2 linked regions of the Homo sapiens genome follow. The protein of the gene in region 1 purifies or fractionates together with the protein of each later gene. This does not show direct contact. Each region holds a gene or a part of one and is shown in the gene's direction. Other genes may lie near its edges. The genes, in order: CDC42SE2 and SSC5D.

Region 1 (3,819 bases):
AATAGAAAACCCTGGCACCCCTGGGTTTTGCTGGGATGCCCCAAGACACAATTTGGAAATAGTGGGCTTGTTAGATTTAATTCATAGATTTAGGGATTTAGTTACACAACTCAACTGACTTTCTCTAGGTCATAAAGTTGAGTCAGCATAGCTTTCAACCTTTCATTTACTTTGGCCACATTTGCATAAATGATTGCTATTTTATACCCTGAAAGTTCCAGCTTTTTTCACTGTCCCAGATGGCAAGTATTTTCATTTTCTTTATTCACTCTGTATCTGCTTCTAGAACTACCTCAGGCTGTACCATCTTTTACTCTTACTGTAGGCCTTCTGCTAACCTGATGGGACCTGGCCTTCATTTGCTTCTCAGTGACATGTGTTTGCACACTAAGCTGCCCAGAGAATAGTCTTTGGGAAAGTTTTAACTTTTAAGTGATGATGTAATTACTGTTTTCTAGAAGCTACAGTTGATCCATATGCCAGAAATGTGAGGGAGGTAGATATAGTATGGTTATATACATATTGTTTAGATAAGGATGCAAATAAGGTTCTCACAGTAGCAAATCCTTTGAAATTAACCTGCTTCTCGCCTCCTTGGATATACTCCAAATTGTTTAGTTCATTATCTTTAATAATTATGATGTAATTATGTAAAAAGTTATGGGAAGAGACATTTTGCCTAATGTCCCCTCCACACTAACATAGCAGTTCATTTGGGTCTCTAGTCCTTCACCTTATGCAGAATAAAAGTTAATATTTTAAGGATGCAAGGATTATTCAGATGGTTGACGGTCTTAACAAAGTTTCCTATAAAGAATTTGTTTCCAGGAAACACGGTGACTCTGCTAACGACAACTGTTAATACGTATCAGAGCAGAGTGCACCATTTCCTGTTTTTCTTTGCGGAGGTCTGACTCTGGAATTCCCCTTGTTTGCCCATGACTATTCTTTTTTTTTCTTTTGAAACAGAGTCTCACTCTGGCACCCAGGCTGGAGTGCAGTGGTGTGATCTCGGCTCACTGCAACCTCTCCCCGCCAACCCCCCACCCCAGGTTCAAGTGATTCTTCTGCCTCAGCCTCTCAAGTAGCTGGGATTACAGGTGCCTGCCACCATGCCCAGCTAATTTTTTTTTCTTAAAGAAAATATTTAATTTTCCATAGTTATTGGGGCTACAGGTGGTGTTTGGTTACATGAGTAAGTTCTTTAGTGGTGATTTGTGGATTTTGGTGTACTCATCACCCGAGCAGTGTACACTGCACCATATTTGTAGTCTTTTATAAAACCCTTGCCCCCCTCCCACTCTTCCAGAGCCCCAAGTCCATTTGATCATTCTTATGGCCTAATTTTTGTATTTTTAGTGGAGACAGGGTTTCGCCATGTTGGCCAGGCTGGTCTTGAACTCCTGACCTCAAGTGATCCACCTGCCTCAGCCTCCTGAAGTGCTGGGATTATAGGCATGAGTCACCATGCCCAGCCACCCGTGACTATTATACAGTACCCCAAACAAGTGTGCCATTCTTTAAATGTCCACATTGTGCCTTAAAATACTGCATTTTTATAGTTTAGAATATTTATTTATATTTAAATCCAGGTTTTTGATAGAGTGTTGTAGGAAAGAGTGTAAAGAACACTTCCACCTGTGTCTAGATCCACCTTTCCTGCCTTCTCAGGAACCTTGTAAGGTTGACAATCCATTTTCTTTTTCCTTCTTTTTCTGTACCTCTTTTACTGGATCTTTCCCATTAGAAATTGAGCATAATGAATTCTCTGCCATCTTACAGGGGAAAAATTCAATCTGTTCTCATCTCCTTTTCTCCTTTCAGCCACTGACCTGTCTTCTTCCTGTCCAGAAGGCCAGACTTTTCTCCAGAGTTGTCTCTGTTCTCTTTCTCCATTTTCCACTTCTTAGACCCACCTCAGTCCCCTGCAGCGTGTCTTCTCCTCCTATTACTCCACTGACATAGCACTCACTAAGGTGCCCATTGACTTGATATTGCTGAATCCATTGCACGTATTTGTCTTTAATTGACCTCTCACCACCTTTCAGCTCTGCTCCCTCTTGACACTTGTACACACTGCTGATTTTCCTACTGACTTTCAGGCTGTTTCTTTTTGGCCTTCTTTGATGGCTTCTTCTCTGCCCAACCACAGAAATTTAGTTTGTCTAGGAAATCTCATTAACTTGGCTTTGTTAATGCTGGTGATTCTCAGTCTCTTATCTCCAGTTTGGATTCTCTCAGAACCCAGTGAATTGCACACTCTCTGCTGAAATCTGAAGTCTGTGCATATTTCTTAACTCCTCCCTCTCACTGTTACCAAATCCAGCCTGCAACCAAGTGCTGTTTTTTTTTGTTTTTTTTTTTGTTTTTTTGAGAGAAGTCTCGCTCTTGTCCCCCAGGCCTGAGTGCAATGGCTCGATCTCGGCTCACTGCAACCTCCGCCTCCTGGGTTCAAACGATTCTCCTGTCTCTGCCTCCCAAGTAGCTGGGATTAAGGCACCTGCTACCACGCCTGGCTAATTTTTGTATTTTTGGTAGAGACGGGGTTTCACTGTGTTGGCCAGGCTGGTCTCGAACTCTTGACCTCAGGTGATCCACCCGCCTCGGCCTCCCAAAGTGCTGGGATTACAGGCGTGAGCCACCACATCCGGCCCAAATGCTGTTGATTTTATCCACTGACTACTTCTTGAATCTATCCACTTCTATCTGTGTTATTAGTTGAATCCACATAATCCCTTTTCACCAACATTAATAACTTATTTTGACCTCTTCTAACATGTTTTCCACCTATAGCTATTGTGGAATAGTCTTCTCAAGCTATTTAATCATGTTATTCCTCTGCTTTAAAACACTTTCAATTATTTCCCATTGTTCTTGGGAGGATCACACACTTCAGTCCTTTACAAACTCTATGTGATCTGGTTCTTGCTTATCTTACTATTTTCATCTTAGGTGTTTACCTTTACTATGCTCGCACAACACAGTTGCTCCTTTCAGTTTCTGGACAGCTGAGTTCCCTCAGCCTTGGGGAGCGAAGGACTGAAAGCTTCTTTCATATCTCACAAACTGTTAGATTAGATGCCATGAAGAAACCTTCCAATACTAAGGTGTGACTCCCAGCTCAGTATAGTTCAAGCTGAAAAATACTCACTATTATTTTCACATTCATATATATTAGTTATCTAATAACACAGTATGATAGAAGTAAGCTGAAGTCTTCCCATCCTTTGCTTTTCAGTGTCAGAGTAGCTTCTTGGGAACTAGTTTTGTTATCAGCTTTTGAATATTCTCAGTAATCATGTTTGCTGAATTATTGTTTGTGAGTATGTGTTAATACCCTTCTTTCACAAGCATATCTATTCATTCTTTTTGGGTGAGATGGGTGGTGGCCTGAGCACACTATGGTTTCTGTTCTCCCCCAACACAGTCCTGCAGTAACTCAACAGAATAAATCACTTAATATGGAGGTATAGACCAAGTGGAGCCTTTTGGCAAGCTCTAAACACACCCTTCTGGAGGAAATGATGCAGAATGAGAACTGTTAGGAGTTGCTTCTGCAGGTTCACAGGACAAGGGTTGATCAAGACTCCTCCTAGTGGTCTGGAAGTAGGTACCAGGAAGTATTCTCTGGTACCACCTCCTCCCCTGCTTGAGAGAGCCAAGTGGCTCTCTCTGCATATCAGAAGCAGTTATCTTGACATGTTTACTGCAAACGCCTGGGGAAGAGTCTGGTGTCCTGCAGATGCCACTGTCCTGTGGAACTGTGACAAGAACCTAGAAGCTTCCCTCTCTACCTGTCAGTTAAGTGGCTCACTGGGG
Region 2 (3,819 bases), on another chromosome or scaffold:
CCCCAAGAAAACAGGGTCCTTCCTTCTGTTTCCTTCCCTCAGCTCTGAGACTGTCTCATGGGGGGCCTCTTGCAAAGAGAAAGGTGGAGAAGAGGAGCACAGGGGCCTCGCCCAGGACACTGAGCTGGGTTCAATGCTCTGCTGTTGCGTCTGGGAGCGTGTGATAATTCTTGAACAAGGGGTCCTAACTTTCGTCATTTACCAAGCCCCCAAAATTCTGTAGCCAGTCCTGGATAAGAGAAAGGATGCTGGGCTGAGAGTCTGCTCTATTCCCAAGCTGCACGGTGTGGCTGTAGGATCCATCATGGGGTACTCAGGCCAGCTTCAAGGAACAGCCCTGCTCAAACATTACCTTTACTTTCCAGAGTCTCTGGTTCTTTAGCAAATGTGATCAATGGTTCTGCCTGCCTCCTTTCATATATATATATATATATTTTTTTTTTTTTTTTTTTTTTTTTTTGAGAGTGGATTTAATTCTGTCACTCAGGCTGGAATGCAGTGGTGTGATCATGGCTCACTGAAGCCTCAACCTCTCAACCTGCAGGCTCAAGTGATCCTCCCACCTCAGCTTCCCAAGTAGCTGGGACTACTAATTTTTTGTATTTTTTTTTTTTGCAGAGATGGGGTTTGCCATGTTGCCTAGGCTGGTCTTGAACTCCTGATCCCAAACCATCTGCCTGCCTCGGCCTCCCAAAGTGCTGGGATTAGAGGCGTGAGCCACCGTGCCTGGTCTCTTTCATGAGTATTGAAAGGACTGTTGTTTTAAAATATAGGTGTTATTATTACTGAGGTATGGTGAGGCCAGGATCTCAGGAGATGACAGCCACTAAAAAGATTGTGACTGACGGTTCTCAAGAGGATGGCGTGCCACACGGGGCCACACAGGGAAGCACCAGGGCCAGGCAGGAGGTAGACGGAGTGAGGGGGAAGCATGGCAGGAATCTTTTATACATTTATTTAGAGACAGGGTCTCACTTGGTTGCCCAGGCTGGAGTGCAGTGGTGTAATCACAGCTCCCTGCAGTCTCAAACTGCTGGGCTCAAGTGATCCTCCCACCTCCGCCTCCTGGGTAACACAGCTGCATGCCACCGAGCCTGGCTATTTTTTTTTTTTTTTTTTTTTTGTAGAGACAGGGCCTCACTATTGTCCAGGTTGGTCTCAAACTCCTGGCCTTAGGTGATCCTCCTGTCTTGGCCTCCCTAAGTGCTGGGATTATAGGCGTGAGCCACCCGGCCAGGTGCAGGGGTCTTTCTTGTGTTTTTTGCAGGAAGGAATAGGTGAGACAGGTTGAGCAGGCTTAGAACTGGCTGGTTTGAAGAATTTCAGTGGGGCCGGTGGGGAGGGTGGCGACTCAGAGGGTTGTCCTTAGTCATCTGGTACTTGGCCCTGGGGCAATGAGGACAGGTGCAGAATGGCCCAGGGTGTGAGAGCCCAGTGGAGAGGGTGGTTTGCACACGAAAGGCATGCTCAAGCCATTTACCATCTCTAGGAATTAGCTAACCCTGGGAGGGGCAGTCCCTCAGGATCAGGAATGCTCCAAGATGTCAAAGCATCAGAAATACAGAAAATAAAAAGGCGTGGTTAACACAGCTGTCTCCTCAAGATGGGAAAAGGCCGAACAAAAGCAGCAACTTATTTTCACCATGATCACCATTCCCAGAGGTCTCGTTCCCCTTTTCCTGAATAATAATATCAGCTAACACTGAACGAGCATGCACTGGCTCCTGGTGACTGATGCTGTTCCCAGTTCTCTCCGTGTCTCAGTCCAGGTGATGCTTACAGCCACTGTGGTGTGGATACTGATAGGTCTCCATGTTACAGATGAGGCAGCACCGCTGAGAAATGGGAGAGCCAGGATTCAAGCAAAAACACTTGTTCCAGGGCGCACGTTCTTTAAAAAACAATTGTGATAAAACATACATGACATAAAGTTTACCATTTTTACCAGTCTTTTTTTTTTTTTTTTTTTAAACAGGGTCTCGCTCTGTCACCCAGGCTGGAGTGCAGTGGCACGATCTTGGCTCACTGCAACCTCCGCCTCCCGGTTCAAGCGATTCTCCTGCCTCAGCCTCCGGAGTAGCTGGGATTACAGGCTGAGCCACTGCACCTGGCCCATGCCTGGCTAATTTTTGTATTTTTAGTAGAGACAGAGTTTCTCCACGTTGGCCAGGCTGGTCTCAAACTCCTGACCTCAGGTGATCTGCCCGCCTGGGCCTCCCACAGTGCTGGAATTAACAGGTGGGAGCCACCGTGCCGGGCCTGCTGCTCCCTGTCTTTTAAAGGACTTCCTCTGAGAAGCCTTCTCCAGCTTCCTCAGGCAGAATTTTTCTCACCTTCTCCTCGTTGTGTGTCTGCCTTGCCCTTTGGGTACTTCCACTACTCCCTTTAGCTCGCTGAGCTGTAATGAAGTGTGTGCATGCTACTTTCCCTGAAGACCGAGAGCTTTTCAAAGCAGAGGCTGTGCCTGACTCATAAACAACAACAAAACACCTTATTATCCCTGGTGGTCTAGTGGTTAGGAAAATAAAATCTAAGAAAGAAGAAAAAAACCCTTATTAAACCAATAATAATGAGAGAAAATTAAGGGTGGTGAACAACTGCATGGAAAAAGACTTATTTTAATTGAGGTGACATTCATGTAACATAAAGTTAACCAGTTTAAGTATACAACTTAAGTGGTATTTATACATTCAAAATGCTGTACAACCACTACTATTTGGCTACTGTGAATGGTGCTGCTATGAACATTCACATACTGGTATCTGTGTGAATACCTGTTTTCAGTTTATTCTGGGTATATCCCTAGTAGCAGACTTTCTAGATTATATGGTAATTTGATGTGTAGCTTTTTGAGGATCCTCCAAACTCTGCCTGACTCATTATCCCTCATGCCTAATGCAGAAAATGGCACAAAAAAGGCCTCATGAAATACTTGCTGCCTGGAGGAAAGGATGGATGAATGGAGGGAAGGCCTAGATGGATGAGTGGAAAGGAAGATGGGGGGAGGGAAAGGTGGATGAAGAGTCAGGAGGCTGGGCGGCTTCCCCGACTCTAATTCTTTGGGTCTCTTCTACCCCAGGGTCCCCCCAGCTGCGCCTGGTGGCTGGGCCCAGCAAGTGCTCAGGTCGACTGGAGGTGTGGCATGACCAGCGCTGGGGGACCGTGTGTGACGATAGCTGGGACATGCGGGATTCAGCTGTGGTCTGCCGGGAGCTGGGCTGTGGTGGACCTCAGCAGCCAGACCCTGCTGCTGGCCGCTTTGGCTGGGGTGCGGGCCCCATCTGGCTAGATGATGTGGGCTGTGTGGGGACCGAGGCTTCACTGTCCGACTGCCCTGCTGCTCCCTGGGGAAAGCACAACTGCGCTCACAATGAGGATGTTGGGGTCACCTGCACTGGTAAGGAGGCCCTAGCTATCTGTTGACTCCAGGAGGGCTTCCTGGAGGGGAACAGTAACTAACATGGGCACTAACATTGATTGAGTGCTTCCTAAGCCCCAGCCCTGTGCTGGGTGTTTTTGCACATATAACCACATTGAAATCACATAATAAGTCTAGGGTGGTGTGTGTTATGCCCATTTTACTGATAAAGAAGCTGAGGCACAGAGAGGTTGGGTAACTTGCTCAAGATCACACAGCAACAACTAACTGGCAGATCTGGGATTCCCACTCAGAGAAGCTTCTGCTTCCTCTTCCTTCCAGGAATCAAGGAAATTTCCCACTAAGAAAGGAGCTTTAGCTTTCCTACGATGAAAGGAAGCAGGCAGGGCACTGGGAGATGGAAAGAAGCCAAAGTGAGAGCCAGTTAACATAAACTCAGG

The links.
Region 2: the proteins of CDC42SE2 (region 1) and SSC5D purify together in Homo sapiens (affinity purification with mass spectrometry; one large-scale study listed by BioGRID and IntAct). This does not show direct contact.

What each region holds. Positions count from the first base shown.
Region 1 is NC_000005.10:131,378,970-131,382,788, forward strand, and holds part of CDC42SE2 (CDC42 small effector protein 2), read left to right. Parts: intron 1-3,819. UniProt on the Homo sapiens protein: Probably involved in the organization of the actin cytoskeleton by acting downstream of CDC42, inducing actin filament assembly. Alters CDC42-induced cell shape changes.
Region 2 is NC_000019.10:55,494,801-55,498,619, forward strand, and holds part of SSC5D (soluble scavenger receptor cysteine-rich domain-containing protein SSC5D isoform 1 precursor), read left to right. Parts: intron 1-3,079; coding exon 3,080-3,397; intron 3,398-3,819.